Homo sapiens: one gene and its partner. The protein of the gene in region 1 interacts with the protein of each later gene in a pairwise test. Each region holds a gene or a part of one and is shown on either strand. Other genes may lie near its edges. The genes, in order: BTBD6 and GRSF1.

The links.
Region 2: the proteins of BTBD6 (region 1) and GRSF1 interact in a two-hybrid assay, tested with the Homo sapiens proteins (one study listed by BioGRID).

What each region holds. Positions count from the first base shown.
Region 1 is NC_000014.9:105,243,386-105,252,435, forward strand, and holds BTBD6 (BTB/POZ domain-containing protein 6 isoform 2 precursor), read left to right. Parts: upstream 1-5,147; 5' UTR 5,148-5,326; coding exon 5,327-5,700; intron 5,701-5,763; exon of another isoform or gene 5,764-5,771; coding exon 5,772-5,862; exon of another isoform or gene 5,863-5,974; coding exon 5,975-6,093; intron 6,094-6,254; coding exon 6,255-7,287; 3' UTR 7,288-7,708; downstream 7,709-9,050. UniProt on the Homo sapiens protein: Adapter protein for the cul3 E3 ubiquitin-protein ligase complex. Involved in late neuronal development and muscle formation.
Region 2 is NC_000004.12:70,828,814-70,837,708, reverse strand, and holds part of GRSF1 (G-rich sequence factor 1), read left to right. Parts: intron 1-1,394; coding exon 1,395-1,551; intron 1,552-4,435; coding exon 4,436-4,591; intron 4,592-5,258; coding exon 5,259-5,402; intron 5,403-6,034; coding exon 6,035-6,170; intron 6,171-8,895. UniProt on the Homo sapiens protein: Regulator of post-transcriptional mitochondrial gene expression, required for assembly of the mitochondrial ribosome and for recruitment of mRNA and lncRNA. Binds RNAs containing the 14 base G-rich element.

The DNA of each region.
Region 1 (9,050 bases):
GTTATAGTGAGCCAAGATCATGCCACTGCACTCCAGCCTGGGCGACAGAGCAGCAAGACTCTGTCTCTTAAAAAAAAAAAAATAAAAATAAAAAATTAGTGGGTGTGGTCTAGTCCCAGCTACTGAGGAGGCTGAGGCAGTAGGATCACTTGAGCCCGGGAGGTTGAGGCTGCAGTGAGCTGTGATTGCACCACTGTACTCAGGCCTGGGCAACAGAAAAAAAAAAAGAGAGAGAAAGAAAAAGATGTACTAATGTGGGTGAGACTTTGATGCTCATTAATTATTGAAATAGAAAACTCATTTCAAAAACACTGGTAAATATATCAACGGCTGGGCACAGTGGCTCACACCTGTAATCCCAGCACTTTGGGAGGCCGAGGAGGGTGGATCACCTGACGTCAGGAATTCAAGACCAGCCTGGCCAATATAGTGAAACCCCATCTCTACTAAAGATACAAAAATTAGCTGGGGGTGGTGGTGTGCGCCTGTAGTCATCCCAGGTACTAAGGAGGCTGAAACAGGAGAATTTGCTTGAACCCGGGAGGTGGAGGTTGCAATGAACCAAGACTGCGCCACTGTACTCCAGCCTAGGCGACAGAGCGAGACTCCATCTCAAACAAACAAACAAAAAATTCAAGACAAGCCAGGCAGAGTGGCTCATACCTACATTCCTAGCTACTTGGAAGGCCGAGGTGGGAGGATTGCTTGAGCCCGGGAGTTCGAGGTCAGCCTGGGAAACACAGCAAGACCCCATCTCTTAAAACAAAAATCTGGGGCCGGATGCAGTGGCTCACACCTGTGAGTCCCAGAACTTTGGGAGGCCAAGGCAGGAGGATCGCTTGAGCCCAGGAGTTTGAAACCAGCCTAGGCAATATAGTGAGACCCCCATCTTTACAAAAAATGAAAAATTTAGCCTAGTGTAGTGATGCATACCTGTTGTCTCAGCTACTTGGGAGGCTGAGGTGGGAGGATTGCTTGAGTCCAGGAGGTCGGGGCTGCATTGAGCCATGACCTTGCCACTGCATTCTAGCCTAGGTGACTGACACCATGTCTCAAAACAAAAAACAAAAAAGACAAGCAAAAAGTGTTTTTTTCAAGACAAATCTGTCAGTGACTAGGGTGGAGGAGGAAGTGGTGGGCAGCGGCGGCACGGTGGGCAAACGCGGAGTGGCAGAGCGGCACGGGACAGGCATGGCATTTCATCATGGAAAGGAACCCATGTCAAGCAGCCTGGAATCTGCAGGCGCACAGCGACAGAGGAAGAATTAAATGAAGGAAAAACACTGGAAACAACCTTCAAAACCACAATAATAGGGGATTTTAACATGGTTCTCTGAAATTTGACAGACTGATTAGGAAAAAAAAGACTAAGGGACGACTTAAGACACATCACCATAGACTCAATCTGACAAGGATGTTCTAAATTCTGTACCCCATGGAGTCATCATGCTTCTCCAGTGTCTGTGGGACAGTTATGAAAATGACCAGGTATGATAGAACAAAGAAACCCTCAATATATTTCAGGTAACAGCACATAGGACATGCCATTTGACCCCAAGTGCAAAAAAAAAAAAACTAAAAATGAGCAAAAACAAGTAGTCCCCTCACCTCCAAACGCTGTTAGAAATTAAAGTTCAATCCTTCAGGTAACTTTATTAACTCAAGCGCTTTGTGTATTTAAGGCAGCAATGGGTCAGGCGTGGTGGCTCACACCTGTAATCCTAGCACTTTGGGAGGCCGAGGCAGGTGGATTGCCTGAGCTCAGAAGTTTGAAACCAGCCCGGGCAACACAGCGAAACCCCGTCTCTACTAAAAAATACAAAAAATTAGCCGGGCATGGTGGCAAGTGCCTGTAATCCCAGCTACTCAGGAGACTGAGACAGGAGAATCACTTGAACCTGGGAGGTGGAGGTTGCAGTGAGCTGAGATCGTGCCACTGCACTCCAGCCTGAGTGACAGAGCAAGACTCCATCTCAAAAAAAATAAATAAATAAATAAAGGAAGCAATGAAATTAATGAACTAAAATAACAGAAAACTAAAAATTAACAAAATTAATTATTTAAAGTAGGCAAAGGGACTAATAAGAAAAAGAAGCAAATAAATTACCACTGTCAAGAAAAGAATTAAAAAGTCCAACAGCCAGTATGGTGCTGACATAAAGACAGACCTACAGACCAACAGAACAGAACAGGACAGGACAGGACAGGACAGGACAGCACAGGGCCAGAAATGACAATGACAGACAGATGACCTTCAACAAGGGTGACAAGAACTTCTTGCACAATGGGGAAAGGATGGTCTCTTCAATATGCAGCGCTGGGAAAACTGGATATCCACTTGCAAATAAAGATAGACCCTTACCTTACATCATACACAAAAACTAACTCAAAACCGATGCAAGACCCAAACACAGACTTGAAACTGTAAAACCCTTAGAAGAAAACAAAGGGAAAGACTTCACGACATTGGTCTTGGCAATGATTTCTTGAACATGACACCAACAGCAAGGGCAACGAAAGTAAAAATAGACAAATGGGATGACCTCAAACTAAAAAGTTTCTGCACAGCAAAGGAATCTATTAACAGAAATGATATCCTATAGAATGGAAGAGACTATGTGCAAACCATCTATCTCATAAGGGGTTAACAGCCTGAATATACAAAAAACTCCAACTCAGGAACAAAATCGATTAAAAATGGGCAAACTGCACTTTTGTAATCCCAGCTCTTTGGGAGGCTGAGGCACAAGAATCGCTTGAACCTGGAAGGCGGATGTTGCAGTGCACCCTCACCACCGCACTCCAGCCTGGGCAACGGAGTAAGACTCTGTCTCAAAAAAAAAAGGCAAAGCCCTTGAACAGACGTTTCTCCAAACACGCCATGCAAATAGCCAACAAGCACATGAGTAGATGGTCAACATCATTATTTATCAGGGACATGCAAATCAAAACCACATGACACTACCTCATGTCCATTAGGATGACCATTATCACAAACAAAAAAGAATAGGCTGGGCGCGGTGGCTCACACCTGTAATCCCAGCACTTTGGGAGGCCTAGGCAGGTAGATCACTTGAGGCCAGGAGTTTAAGACCAGCCTGGTCAACGGAGTCTCGCTCTGTCATCCAGGCTGGAGTGCAGTAGCATGATCTCAGCTCACTGCAACCTCCGCCTCCCTGGTTCGAGCCATTCTCCTTCCTTGGCCTCCCGAATAGCTGGGATTACAGGTGCCCGTTAATTTTTGTATTTTTAGTAGAGATGGGGTTTCACCATGTTGGCCAGGCTGGTCTCAAACTCCTGACCTCAAGTGATCCGCCCACCTTGGCCTCCCAAAGTGCTGGGATTACAGGCGTGAGCCACCGCGCCCAACCTACACTGTAACATATTTAAAAATCAAAGTGCAAAGGGTGGTTTCTTTCTAAGGATGAAAATTATTATTCACATGCTCCACACCACCATGCAGATCAAGACGCTGACTACCTCTGGCGGCTCAGCAATTCTATCCTGGCACCCCCGGAGACAGCTGTCGCCCAGGTCTTGTGTGCTGCTGTAAGTTATTCCTTCTCACTGCATTCCCCAAATGGACCCACCACAACCTGCTGATCCTTTCTGTTGCTGATGGACATGTAGGCTGTCTCCACTCTGGCCATTTGTATTTCTCCTGGAAACTGCTTATGCCCGTTACCTTTTTCTATGGAAACAGACGGCTGGGACAGAAACCACGGCCACAGCAGCCAGCGTGTCTTTGCCAGTGGGGTCCCACACTATGAAATCGCAGCTGTGGCCTCGGTGGGTGTGTCCTTGGCGGGTGCATCCACACACTTTCTCTCGGAACTTTCCGGACTCTCATGCATATGCTACAGCTTTCCAAACGGCTTGGCCGTGCGGAGTTACGCACCCACCTGCAGCAGGTGATCTCCAGCTGCTCTGCATTCCACCAACACTACGTGACAAGTCTCAAGTTCAGCCGCCTGGGGGCTCGGGCACCCCATTCCTGGGAGAAATGATGATTTGTGCACTCTGGGCCATTGCATGGTGTCTGTTCACGTCCTTTGCCCGTTTTTTAAAAAACTGGGTTGTCAGCCTTTTCCTTCCTGACTTGTAGTTGCTCCTCCATCCTGGAGAGTCCTTTGTTGAAAATACCGCAAATATCTTCTGAAGAGGACTCTCCCAGGGAACATTCACTACAACTGTAACGACCACAGAGACACAGAGCTCCTGTTCACTGTTTAGCCCAGGACTGCGGTGACAGGTGCACCCATGACCCGAGATGCTGGCTGCGTCCTGTGGGGTTTCCTGCATATGGAAGTTTTAAAAGTCTAAAGCCTGGCGGTCCAGGAGGTTGCGTGTGTGTCCTCGGGGAGGAACCCTCCTGACAGCCAGGCCTCTGGAGCTTCGTCTGCACGCGAGCTTGGCATGCACCAGCTGTGCGGCCCAGGCCAGGTGACACGGCCTCTGAAGTCTGGTCTCCTCATCAGCAAAGCCAGTGCCCCATGCCACGCACCTCCCAGGATTAGCCCCAGGCCGGGAGGCTAGAGGCCCCACAAGGAGCGAGCCTGCGACTGCGATCCACAGGCAGAGCCACAGAGGCAGGGCGCGCCCTGGGGCCCAAGCTCCAGGGCTGCAGGCCCAGGGCCAGATCCTGACTTGCCCACCCGCCGGCTGTGTGACCTTCAGCGCGCGACTAACCTCTCTGTGCCTATTTCCTCGAGGAAAATGCCGGGAAATAGCAGCGCCTGCCCCTGTAAAGCCCTCAGAGCAGAGTGGACCGCGCTCTCTGCAAGCGCTGGCTGCTGGCGTCCGTAGCAAGCTAAATCGCGAAGCATCTGAACGAACGAGGAAGCCCAACGACCATCCCACAGGCCGCGGCCAGAGGCAGACTCCGGAATGCAAATGGCCAAACAAGCAGGTCCACCTGCGTTCCTAACCAAAAGATCGCTAACTGAAGAACGGGCGCAAGCACCTGCGCATGGCACTGCGGGTCTGGGGGCGGCCGCCTGCCAGCGCCGGGAGCCGCCTTCCACGGCTACCTCTGCACAGCGCGCGGCTCGCGCCGGTTGCTGGGCAGAAGCTCGAGCAGCTTCGAGGATGTCGGGCCTGGGGGCGGGGCCGCGAGGCAGCGACGTCGCGCGGGGCGCGGCCCTGACGCAGCGTGACGCACCGGCGCCGCGGCGGGTACGGGCTCGGGCGGGCGGGCGGGCGGGACGGCGCCCCCCGCGGCCGGGCCTGGCCGGGCTGCGCTAGGCTGGGCTCGGGCAGGGTCGCAGGGGCGGGGGTGGCAGGGGAGCGGGTGGCAGCCCCGCGGGTCACAGCGCCGCCGCCGCCCATGCTGCTGCCCCTAGCCTGCCTGCACGGCCGCGTCGCTCAGTGCCTGACCTCCTTGCTTTTGCTTGCAGAGCCGCTCCCGAGGCCCCGGCGCGGCGCGAGGGCGCGGGGCGCGGCGTCCACAGGCGCCGAGGCTGCCCCCGCCGCCCCGCCCGCGAAGATGGCGGCGGAACTCTACGCTCCCGCCAGCGCCGCGGCCGCGGACCTAGCCAACAGCAACGCCGGCGCCGCCGTGGGCAGGAAGGCCGGGCCGCGCAGCCCGCCCAGCGCCCCCGCGCCAGCGCCGCCGCCGCCCGCGCCCGCGCCGCCCACACTCGGCAACAACCACCAGGAGAGCCCCGGCTGGCGGTGCTGCCGCCCCACGCTGCGCGAGAGGTGAGCCCGTGCCCCGCGGCCCCCGCGCCCGCGCGCGCCCACGCCCCCAGCCCGTGCCTCTACCTTTGCAGGAACGCGCTCATGTTCAACAACGAGCTCATGGCCGACGTGCACTTCGTCGTGGGGCCCCCGGGGGCGACCAGGACGGTGCCCGCCCACAAGGTGGGTAGCGGCGGCCCCTCTCGGAACGCGTGCCCCGTCCGCCCCGTCCGCCGTGTGGCTGACACGCAGCCTGCGGGAGAGCCAGGCTCACGGCGGCGCTTTCTCCTCCCAGTACGTCTTGGCTGTCGGCAGCTCCGTCTTCTATGCCATGTTCTACGGAGACCTGGCGGAAGTCAAATCTGAAATTCACATTCCAGACGTGGAGCCCGCAGCCTTTCTGATCCTCTTAAAGTAAGTCCACTCTACTGGGGAGGGACGGGTGGGTCCGTTTTAGGCGGCCTCCGGAGGCTTCTGAAGGGAAGCACACAGGAGCTGATGGACTCCTCTCCCAGGCCCAGCCCCGCGATGGGTGCTTGGGAGCCAGCCCCTGACGCGGGCCCTGCCTCGCCTAGGTACATGTACAGTGATGAGATCGATCTGGAAGCCGACACGGTGCTGGCCACTCTGTACGCTGCTAAGAAGTACATCGTCCCAGCATTGGCAAAAGCCTGTGTCAACTTTCTGGAGACAAGTTTGGAAGCCAAGAACGCCTGCGTCCTGCTGTCCCAGAGCCGGCTGTTTGAGGAGCCCGAGCTGACGCAGCGCTGCTGGGAGGTCATTGACGCACAGGCCGAGATGGCCCTACGGTCCGAAGGCTTCTGTGAGATAGACCGGCAGACGCTGGAGATCATTGTCACTCGGGAGGCCCTCAACACCAAAGAGGCGGTGGTCTTCGAGGCCGTCCTGAACTGGGCCGAGGCGGAGTGCAAGAGGCAGGGGCTGCCAATCACCCCACGAAACAAGAGGCATGTTCTGGGGCGAGCCCTCTATCTGGTCCGAATTCCAACCATGACCCTAGAGGAGTTTGCCAACGGCGCTGCCCAGTCAGACATCCTGACTCTGGAGGAGACCCACAGCATCTTCCTGTGGTACACGGCCACCAACAAGCCCCGCCTGGACTTTCCCCTGACCAAGAGGAAGGGCCTCGCCCCGCAGAGGTGCCACCGATTCCAGTCTTCTGCCTACCGCAGCAACCAGTGGCGGTACCGCGGGCGCTGCGACAGCATCCAGTTTGCAGTGGACAGAAGGGTATTTATTGCAGGGCTGGGCCTGTATGGCTCCAGCTCTGGGAAGGCTGAGTACAGCGTGAAGATTGAGCTCAAGCGGCTCGGGGTGGTTCTGGCTCAGAACTTGACCAAGTTCATGTCAGACGGATCCAGTAACACCTTCCCGGTCTGGTTTGAACACCCGGTCCAGGTTGAACAAGACACCTTCTACACGGCCAGTGCCGTCCTGGACGGCAGCGAACTCAGCTACTTTGGGCAGGAGGGGATGACGGAAGTGCAGTGTGGAAAGGTGGCCTTCCAGTTCCAGTGCTCCTCGGACAGCACCAACGGGACTGGGGTCCAGGGTGGGCAGATCCCTGAGCTCATTTTCTATGCCTGAGGTGCCCGGGGAGGCTGCAGCAGGTCAGCGAGTGAGTGGAGGGGAAGTCAAGATGCTAACTGCTTCTTGACACCATGAAAGGCTGCTCTTAACTTTGTCTCTCTTTGACATGTAGTCAGCTGAAGCTTGACTGTGTAGAGACATTTTCCACACAGCCAGAACCCAGGGATTGGAGTCTTAGGCATCTCTGGTACAGTGGGGTGCACGTCTCAGGTGGAGGAAGATTTACGGCTCAAGACAGGCCCCAGATCCCCTCCCAGTGGCACCCATGCCACCTGCTTTGAGGGGTTGGATCTTCCTGCTACCCTCTTGGATTCTAAGTGGTTCCAAGCTTAACTTGAGACCTTCCCTTCAAATCTAAAATTGGCAAAAAGTCACTTAAAATAGTGGACTTCTGTAATAAAGGTTGCCTAAAATAACACCCACGTGTCAGTAAATGACTACAGCAGTTGTACAGTGGGGTATTCTCTTTCTCATGCAACAGAACAGCTCCCTCCCATCCCGAGGAGAAAACCTGTCATGCTGAACATGCTATGTGGTTAGGAGCAAACTGCGCCCCAGTGAAGCCCATCTGTCCCCTGGGTTGCTGGCTGGCTTCTGGGCCACCCTAGGAAACACCAGGTGCCTGGTTGTCTCTATGTCCTAATGCATCACTAGCACCTCAGAGTCCTACCCTATGAACAGACTGTCGGGGGAGCATTCTGCTGGGCCCAGCGTTCTGGACCCTGGGGACTGTCACTAGCTGTGACACTGCTGCGGGACAGCCTGTTGCAGGAGTGGACTATAGGGTGAAACAGGCTCTCCCACCCCTTGTCTCTCTCCTCCCACTCTGCATACCCTGTAGGCAGTTGTTTTCTGGAAAACCTGTATGACCCCCGAAAAGAGGGATGGCCCCTCTTGGCACCTGGGAGAGGGCATGGGCCGAGTGTATAGCCTCAGCCGGTGCCCCTCTGCTGCTGCAGCCCGTGTTGCTCAGTCCTGTTGGTGACCCAGCCCCACCTGGTGCTTCTCTACCCAAAGGACATACGCTCCTAGATGCAAACAGGCAAAGTAAGAAAGGGGCCTCTAAGCGGGCCATGGAAACCAGTCATCTGCTTGGTAAAGAAAGGGTAGGTCAGAACCATCGGGCAGTGAGTGCTGTTTTGATCCTTTCCTTCTAGACTTTTCCGCTAGGTTAGATTCTGCATGCATGAACACTGCTGCTGCCTCGAGGGAGAGACAGGACTTACCCTACACCTAACACACATCAAGAAAGGCATACAGGAGTTCCACAAACTCGCACACAACACAGAACAAAAGTGGCAGAAAAACCACAAAAGAGGGCTGTGGCTGGAAAGCACAACCAGGAGCTGCCCCACTGTCCCCATCTGTCCAGAGGCACCTGGAGCCAGGTGTGTCCCTTAAACCTTGTCCACACAAGATGCTCCCAGCACGCAGCACTTGTTTCCCTGTCTACACCTTCCTGCCACCTGACAGGCACTGACAACAGGCCTTCTGGTTTTGCAGCAGAAAGCAAGCCCCAGGCCAGGTGCGGTCTCATGCCTGTAATCCCAGTGCTTTGGGAGGCGAAGGCACGAGGATCACTTGAGGCCAGGAGTTTGAGGCTGCAGTGAGCTACGATTGTGCCACTGCACTCCAGCCTGGACAACAGCGAGACTGTGTCTTAGAAAATAAGGCCCCACATTACTGAGCTCCTAGCAGCTTTAAGAAACATTTCTTACCTTGAGGGGTCCCATGCTTGGACAGGATTTCCCTCCACTGTT
Region 2 (8,895 bases), on another chromosome or scaffold:
AGATTGTGCCATTATACTCTAGTCTGGGCGACAAGAGCGAAACTCCGTCTCAAGAAAAAAGAAAAGAAAAGAAAATGACAGATAGTAGAAAGATATCTCTGTCCTTAGTCCGGTAGAGTGCAAGTCTTTTTTTTTTTTTTTTTTTGAGACGGAGTCTTGCTCTGTTGCCCATGCTGGAGTGAAATGCCGAGATCTCAGCTCACTGAAACCTCTACCTCCCGGGTTCAGGCGATTATCCTGCCTCAGCCTCCCGAGTAGCTGGGATTACGGGCACACGCCACCACACCCGGCTCATTTTTTGTATTTTTAGTAGAGATGGGGTTTTGCCATGTTGGCCAGGCTGGTCTTGAACTCCTGACCTCGTGATTCGCCCACCTCGGCCTCCCAAGGTGCTGGGATTACAGGCGTGAGCCACCGCACCTGGCCCAGTAGAGTGCAAGTCTTAAAGCCTGAGTTGTCTTCTTAGGTTATGGTTGTAGTGCTTCGTGGATTCTTACTAAATTCCAGTTTTACTTAATCCGATAAAAGAGACTTTACAAGTCTGTAGCCTCACACTGCTGCCGTTGTCTTTAAGATCTTTCCCTTAATCACTTGGTCTGGCATACCAGCTGACAGAGGAATATTCCCAAGGCGTCCTGCTGTCTTGTTGATTTACCCAGTCCTCAGTGTCTTGTATTAACTTATCTTTGCCTACCAAGTGAAGGACACACATTGAGCTCCACACTCAAGGCCCTCTGCTCTATGGTACCAACCTCTTTTGCCAGGTCACCTTCTTTGGCTCCTAATTTAAACAGTTGGAATTAATTGCTGTTATTCAAATGGGCATTTGGTCGTACTGCTTCTTTCTCTCGCCTTCAAACTGGAATACCCTATCTTTTATATCCTCATAAAAATTCTATCCTTCCTTCAAGGCCCATCTCATGTCACATCCTGATTCATCTGTTAGTGCTCTGATTTGAATTCCTGTAGTATTTTGTATCTTAATTATAGCACTCAGTATCTCATCTTGTATGCTTATCGTATTCTAGATAGCTATTTCAGATGAGGGCGGCAAACACTGTGTGTAGGGGCAATCAAATATTTGTCAAATTGTCAGGACCTTTCTTGTGTTGCCTTAACTACACTATTGTTAGCTATAATTTGGGGTTGATGAATTTTAAAACAAACCCTGAATGAAATTTGTGTCCTGCCAAACCTTTAGGATATACCTGCTTATGGCTTTTGGATGTACAATTTAAGCCAAAACAGGATGGGTTACATTGGTGAAGTTTACTTTTTGCTTCTGAAATAACATCTAGAATGTTAGTTTGTAGAATAAACATTTTCTAAGAATTTTTTTACATTTTTTACCTGTAAATGCAACTCTTTTTACAATTCTTCATTTCCTTTGGAAGGAGTCCAAAACTACTTACCTGGAAGACCTTCCACCACCCCCTGAGTATGAATTGGCCCCGTCCAAGTTAGAAGAGGAAGTGGATGATGTCTTTCTCATTCGAGCTCAAGGACTGCCCTGGTCATGCACTATGGAAGATGTGCTTAACTTTTTTTCAGGTATATTTTATGTATGTTTTATTTATTTATTTTTTTTCCTTATATTGTTTCTCACAAGCAGGTATGTATGTTTTAAGTATGTAATTTTGTCTGAGTAAAAGGTAGTGCTACAAATCCATGTCAGACTACGCTGTCACCTTCCTTTTTGATGGTTGGGAACTGTCTCATTCTGGTTGGTTGCATATACCAAATGATACCATGTGTGCTGTTTGCGGTATGTAACGAATTGAAAGACTTTGGGCCAGGGGCAGTGGCTCAGGCCTGTAATCAGCAGTTTGGGAGGCCAAGGTGGAAGGATGGCTTGAGGCCAGTAGTTCCATACCACACTGGGCAACACTGTGAGACTGTCTCAATTTACATATGTATAAAGACTTTGAATGCAACAAAAGTATTTTAACGTTAAGACTGCATAGTATGGGCCAGGCGCAGTGGCTCACGCCTGTAATCCCAGCACTTTGGGAGGCCGAGGCGGGCGGATCACAAGCTCAGGAGATCGAGACCATCCTGGCTAACATAGTGAAACCCCGTCTCTACTAAAAATACAAAAATTACCCAGGCTTGTAGTCCCAGCTACTTGGGAGGCTGAGGCAGGAGAATGGTGTGAATCCGGGAGGTGGAGCTTGCAGTGAGCCGAGATGGTGCCACTGCATTCCAGCCTGGGCGACAGAGTGAGACTCTGTCTCAAAAAAAAAAAAAAATCCATCATACTATGTAGGTTTTTTTTTTTTTGAGACGGAGTCTCGCTCTGTCGCCAGGCTGGAGTGCAGTGGCATGATCTCAGCTCACTGCAAGCTCCGCCTCCCGGGTTCACACCATTCTCCTGCCTCAGCCTCCCTAGTAGCGACTGCCACCACACCCAGTTAATTTTTTGTATTTTTAGTAGAGCTGGGGTTTCACCGTGTTAGCCAGGATGATCTCAATCTCCTGACCTTGTGATCTGCCTGCCTCGGCTTCCCACAGTGCTGGGATTACAGGCGTGAGCCACCGTGCCCGGCTGGTATGATGGAATACTACGTAGCCATAACAAAGAGTGAGATTATGTGCTTTGCAGCAATGTGGGTGGTGCTGGAGACCATTATCCTAAGCAAACTAACATGGAACATTAAACTTAATACTGTATGTTTTCACTTACAAGTGGGAGCTAAACAATGAGAACACATGGACACAAAGAGGGGAACAAGAAGACACCAGGGCCAACTTGAGGGTTGGGGAGAAGATTAAAAAATACCTATCGGGTCCAAGTGCGGTGGCTCACGCCTGTAATCCCAGCACTTTGGGAGGCCGAGGCGGGCGGATCACGAGGTCAGGAGATCGAGACCATCCTGGCTAACATGTTGAAACCCCATCTCTCCTAAAAATACAAAAAAAATTAGCCGGGCGTGGTGGCACGCTCCCGTAGTCCCAGCTACCTGGGAGGCTGAGGCAGGAGAATCGCTTGAATCTGGGAGGCGGAGGTTGCAGTGAGCTGAGTTCACACCACTGTACTCCAGCCGTGGTGACAGAGAGAGACTCTGTCTCAAAAAGAAAAATAAAACCTATTGGGTACTGTGCTTGCTACCTGGGTAACTAAATTATCTGTATACCGAACTCCCATAACACATGGTTTACCTATGTAGCAGTCCTATACATGTACTAAATAAAAGTTGAAAAACAAAATTACATGGTTTGAAATTATTTTTCTCTGTGGTATTAATATATACATATCAAAAAGTCAAGCCTGTCAGTGGAAATATGGAATTAAGGGTGACTCTTTATGTAATACAGACATTTACAATAGAAGGTCACTTAGTATCAAGGAATAAAGTTCCCTTAATAACATGTTTGGAGGGTTTACATATCTGTGGGATTTTTTTTTTTAGTTTCTGTATCTGACTATGATTTATTTTTATTAATTTTTTTGAGATGGAGTCTTGCTCTGTCACCCAGGCTGGAGTGCAGTAGCGCAATCTCGGCTCATTGCAACCTCCACCTCCCGGGTTCAAGGGATTCTCCTGCCTCAGCCTCCTGAGTTGGTGGGACAGCAGGCACCTATCACCATGCCCGGCTAATTTTTGTATTTTTAGTAGAGACAGGGTTTTGCCGTGTTGGCCAGGTTGGTCTCAAACTCCTGACCTCAGGTGATCCACCACCTTGGCCTCCCAAAGGGCTGGGATTACAGGCATGAACCACCATGCCTGGCTATTTCATTAATTTTTTTAGCTGCTCCTTGTGGAGCAGGAGTAAATCCTAGGCAGTATGCCCAGAGTGAGCCTGGTCAAACTTTTTTTTAAAGCCACTTGGCCACTTACATCTTGGACTACTCCCATTATAAAAAGTATGCAGTATGAAAAGGGGAAAAAGGCTGGGTGTGGTGGCTGATGCCTGTAATCCCAGCACTTTGGGAGACTAAGGTGGGAGGATTACTTAAGCCCAAGAGTTCAAGACCAGCCTGTGCAACAAAATGAGACCGCCTCTCTACAAAAACAAAAAGTTAAACTATGGTAATAAAATTACTCATACAGGAAATATTTTAGAGACCTATGGAGATGATTTTAAAGGAAGACACTTATGTATAAATTTAACTATATTGTATTTCCTTAAGTGATTGTAGAAACATTGCAATAGAAATAATGAATTTTGTGTTGGGCCTATCCTGATTTGCTATTTAATGATCAGGAAGGAGATCATAAGCTTCTGTGCTAAGGTTTGCTTATCTTTTCTACTTGGAAGGTTTTAGAGACTAAATCCTTATTGGTGTTTGGATGACTTCAGTGATGGGGATTTGTGTAAGGAATATGACACTTGTTTCCTGCTTTGTTGTTGGAAAACTGCATTCTTGTGACTTACATAATTGAGCTAAAAGTTTGATTTCTGTTTTCAATTGATTTTGCTCATACACTTTTAGACTGCAGAATCCGCAACGGTGAGAATGGAATACATTTTCTCCTAAACAGAGATGGGAAACGAAGGGGTGATGCCTTAATTGAAATGGAGTCAGAGCAGGATGTGCAGAAAGCCTTAGAGAAGCACCGCATGTACATGGGCCAGCGGTATGTGGAAGGTATGTGAAGTCAGATTATGGCTTTTTGGGATCATTGCATTAGGTTTTATACTTTTCAAGGTAGTTTTTATTTGATCCTTAATAATGAAGTATTTAGATTGTATGAATGCATTCTTTTATAGGATGTGAAAATAAAACATAAAGAGATAAAGTTTCTTTTTTTTGTGGGGGGGATGGAATCTCACTCTGTCACCCAGGCTGGAGTGCAGTGGTGCGATTTCAGCTCACTGCAACCTCTGCCTCCTGGGTTCAAGCAATTCTCCTGTCTCAGCCTCCCAAGTAGCTGGGACTACAGGCACATGCCATGATACCCAGCTAATTTTTGTATTTTTATTAGAGATGGGGTTTTACCATATTGGTCAGGCTGGTCTCAAACTCCTGACCTCAGGTAATCCACCCGCCTTGGCCTCCCAAAGTTCTGGGATTATAGGCGTGAGCCAGTGTGCCTGGCCAATGAAGTATCTTACAAGCTGTGAGAAATAAAGAAGTTATGCCCGCATGGTAAATATGCAATAAATGTCATTTGTTATTTTCTCTAGAGAAGCGCATAAAGATTAAAATAGTTATTGAATTCTCAGATAACCCAGCAAGTTGTAATGATTTTTTTTAATGGGTTTGTTCCTTTGTTATGTAAATTTTTCATCCCTGTTGGGTTTTTTCTTCGTAGTATATGAGATAAACAATGAAGATGTGGATGCCTTAATGAAGAGCTTGCAGGTCAAATCTTCGCCTGTGGTAAATGATGGTGTGGTTCGTTTGAGAGGACTTCCTTATAGTTGCAATGAGAAAGACATTGTAGACTTCTTTGCAGGTACTTTGCAGTTGTATTATGCTTGGGAGCTCATATCTTTTTTCCCTTGGTATCTCCTTCTATATCTTAGATGAGCCTGTTTCTGGGCAAAGGCATGCAGTTATATTAGGTTCTTTAGGGGAGAGCTCTTCACTTAAATTTCTAATATTTATAGATTTTATATGTGTTTTTGTTCTATCAGGCAGATTTTAGGAGGGAAGTCAGATTTCAGAATAATTTCATGAGGGTTTTACTATTGAAGGAAATAACTTCTCATAATAGTTGCTGTATTTGTGTAAGACAATAACAATTTATATAATTTAAAAGTATTTTCTAATTCCTAGAACCATTAGCAGTGAAGTCTGTGATTTCTATTGTTTCCTAGTATATAATTAACAGCAAAAAAAAAAAAAAAAACTGGTGGGGAGAATTGTATGTTTTGGGTGGGCTTCTTGGACCTTACCTATTCTGGAAATACAAGTATGTAGGTGTTGACTGACTTTTGACTGCATAATAATTTTCTTCCTGTCAAGCATGTATTCAGTTTTGGGACTGGCAAAACAGAATAAAAATTTTATTAGTATGTGAATGATGGTGTTAATTCTAAGGATAAAAAAGCCTGCTAGTAGCATTAAAATCTCTTGGTGTCCTAGGACTGAATATAGTTGACATTACTTTTGTGATGGACTATAGAGGGAGGCGAAAAACAGGGGAAGCCTATGTGCAATTTGAAGAACCAGAAATGGCCAACCAAGCCCTGTTGAAACACAGGGAAGAAATTGGTAATCGGTGAGTAAAGCAGATACTAATGATGCAGAAGTGTTACACATTAAGTCATTTTGATGAATGTGCTGTAATATGACTGAAAAGTTATCCAAACATAGAAAAGTAGAGAGAGTAGTGTAGTGAGCCATCAAATGCCCATAATTTAGATTAACAATTTTTTTTCGACTGCTCCTTTTTTTTTTTTTTGAGACAGAGTTTCACTCTTTTTGCCTAGGCTAGAGTGCAATGGCACGATCTTGGCTCACTGCAACCTCTGCCTCCCTGGTTTAAGCGATTCTCCTGCCTCAGCCTCCCAAGTAGCTGGGATTACAGGCGCCTGCCACCATGCCCGGCTTTTTTTGTATTTTTAGTAGAGACGGGGTTTCACCATGTTGGCCAGGGTGGTCTCGATCTCTCGACCTTGTGATCCGCCCGCCTCGGCCTCCCAAAGTGCTGGGATTACAGGCGTGAGCCACCGCATCCGGCTTGACTGCTCCTTGTGGGGCAGGGACTAACCCATAGACAGAGTACCTAGAGCAGCTAGATTAACACATTTATATATAAAATGTAACATCTGTTATATTTGCTTCATCTGGGTTTTTTTTAGTATGCATCTTTTAAAAAAATTTTTTTACATAATTTCAATGTTATATCTAACACTGTTAGCAATAGTATATTATCTAATAACAGTTCATAATAGCATTTTCCCAATTATACCAAAAATAGCCTTTTTTTTTTTGGCAACGGAGTTTCACTCTGCCGCCTAGGCTGGAGTGCGGTGGTGTGATCTTGGCTCACTGCATCCTCTCTCTGCCTCCCAGTTTCATGTGATCCTCCTGCCTCAGCCTCCTGAGTAGCTGGAACTAGAGGCATGCGCCACCATGCCCAGCTAAGTTTTGTATTTTTAGTAGAGACAAGGTTTTACCATGTTGGCCAGGCTGGTCTAGAACTCCCGGACTCAAGTCATTCACCCACCTCGGCCTCCAAAAGTGCTGGGATTACAGGTGTGAGCCAGCACACCGGACAAAAATACAGAATCCAGATAAGGTCTACACACTGCATTTGATTGTTATGTCCATAATTCTCTGTGTGTGTGTGTGTTTTTTTTTTTTTTTTAAGACACAGGGTCTTATTCTGTCACCCAGGCTGGAGTGCAGTGGCATGATGATAGCTCACTACAGCCTTGAATTCCTGGGCTCAAGCAATCGTCTCGCCTCATCCTCCCAACTAGCTAGAACAATAGGCATGTGCCGCCACACCTGGCTGTGTGTATGTGTGTGTGCGTGCGTGCGTGTGTGTTTGTAGGTGGGGTCTTGCTGTGTTGCCCTGGCTGGCCTCAAACTCATGGGCTCAAGTGATCGCCCGCTTTGGCTTCCCAAAACGCTAGGATTACAGGTGTGAGCCACTGCACCTGACCACTGATTCTCTTGAACTAGAGCAAATCCCCCTTACTTATTCTTCCCCCCTTTTTAAAAGCAATTGACTTTTGAAGAAATTAGATCAGTTGTCTTGTACAGTATCTCATGTTGACATCACCTCAGGATGCACATGATGATAAGTGGGTTCATTTGTGTTTTAACTTTAACTTTGGAGGTACAGTTTAAAATGTCAAATGTTAAATCACTGTTTCGTTAATTTTTTTTTTTACTGTTTTCTGGCCTTTTAAATCAGCTCCTTTGAAGTAAACAAAACAGCCATTCCAAAGCCAGTGTTTCAGGATCTACTGATAGAAGTGGTTCAAAGGTTTTTTGGTTTTTTGAGACAGGATCTTGCTCTGTCACCCAGGCTGAAGTGCAGTGCCACAAACACTGCTCATTTCAGCCTTGACCTTCTGGGCTCAAGCAGTCCTGCCATCTCAGCTTTCCTTGTAGCTGGTACCACAGGCATGCATCACCATGCCTGGCTAATTTTAGACAGAGTCTTATTCTGTTACCCTCGCTGGAGTGCAGTTGTGTGATACAGCTCACTGCAGTTGTGGCCTCCTGGGCTCAAGCAATCCTCCCACTTCAGCCTCCCAAGTAGCTGGGACTACAGATACATGCCACCACACCCAGCTAATTTTTGTATTTTTGTAGAGACGGGGTTTTGCATGTTGCCCAAGCTGGTCTCACACTCCTGAGCTCAAGTGATCCACCTGCCTCAGCCTCCCAAAGTACTGGGATTATAGGTGTGAGCCACTGTACCTGGTCTCCTGGCTAATTAAAAAAAAAAACAAAAAAAAACTTTTGTAGAGATGGTGTCTCACTTTGTTGTCCAGGCTCAAAGGTTTTTTTTTTAAAGAAGTAGTGCTCATCTAATCTTTATAGATTTGTAAACACAAGCTAGTTTTATAACTCTTAGTTTAGAAGGCCATGTTAAGAAAAAGGAAACTGTGCTGGGCGCGGTGGCCCATGCCTATAATCCCAGCACTTTGGGAGGCCGAAGTGGGAGGATCACTTGAGCCCAGGAGTTCAAGAGCAACTTGGGCAACATGGCAAGAACCCATGTCTACAAAAATAAAAAATAAAAAAATTAGCAGTGTGTGGGCTGGGCATGGTGGCTCATGCCTATAATCCCAGCACTTTGGGAGGCTGAGGCAGGTGAATCACCTGAGGTCTGGAGTTTGAGACCAGCCTGGCCAACATAGTGAAACCCTGTCTCTACTAAAAATACAAAAAATCAGCTGGGCGTGGTGGCGGGCGCCTGTAATTCCAGCTACTCAGGAGGCTGAGGCAGGAGAACTGCTTGAACCCAGGAGGCAGAGGTTGCA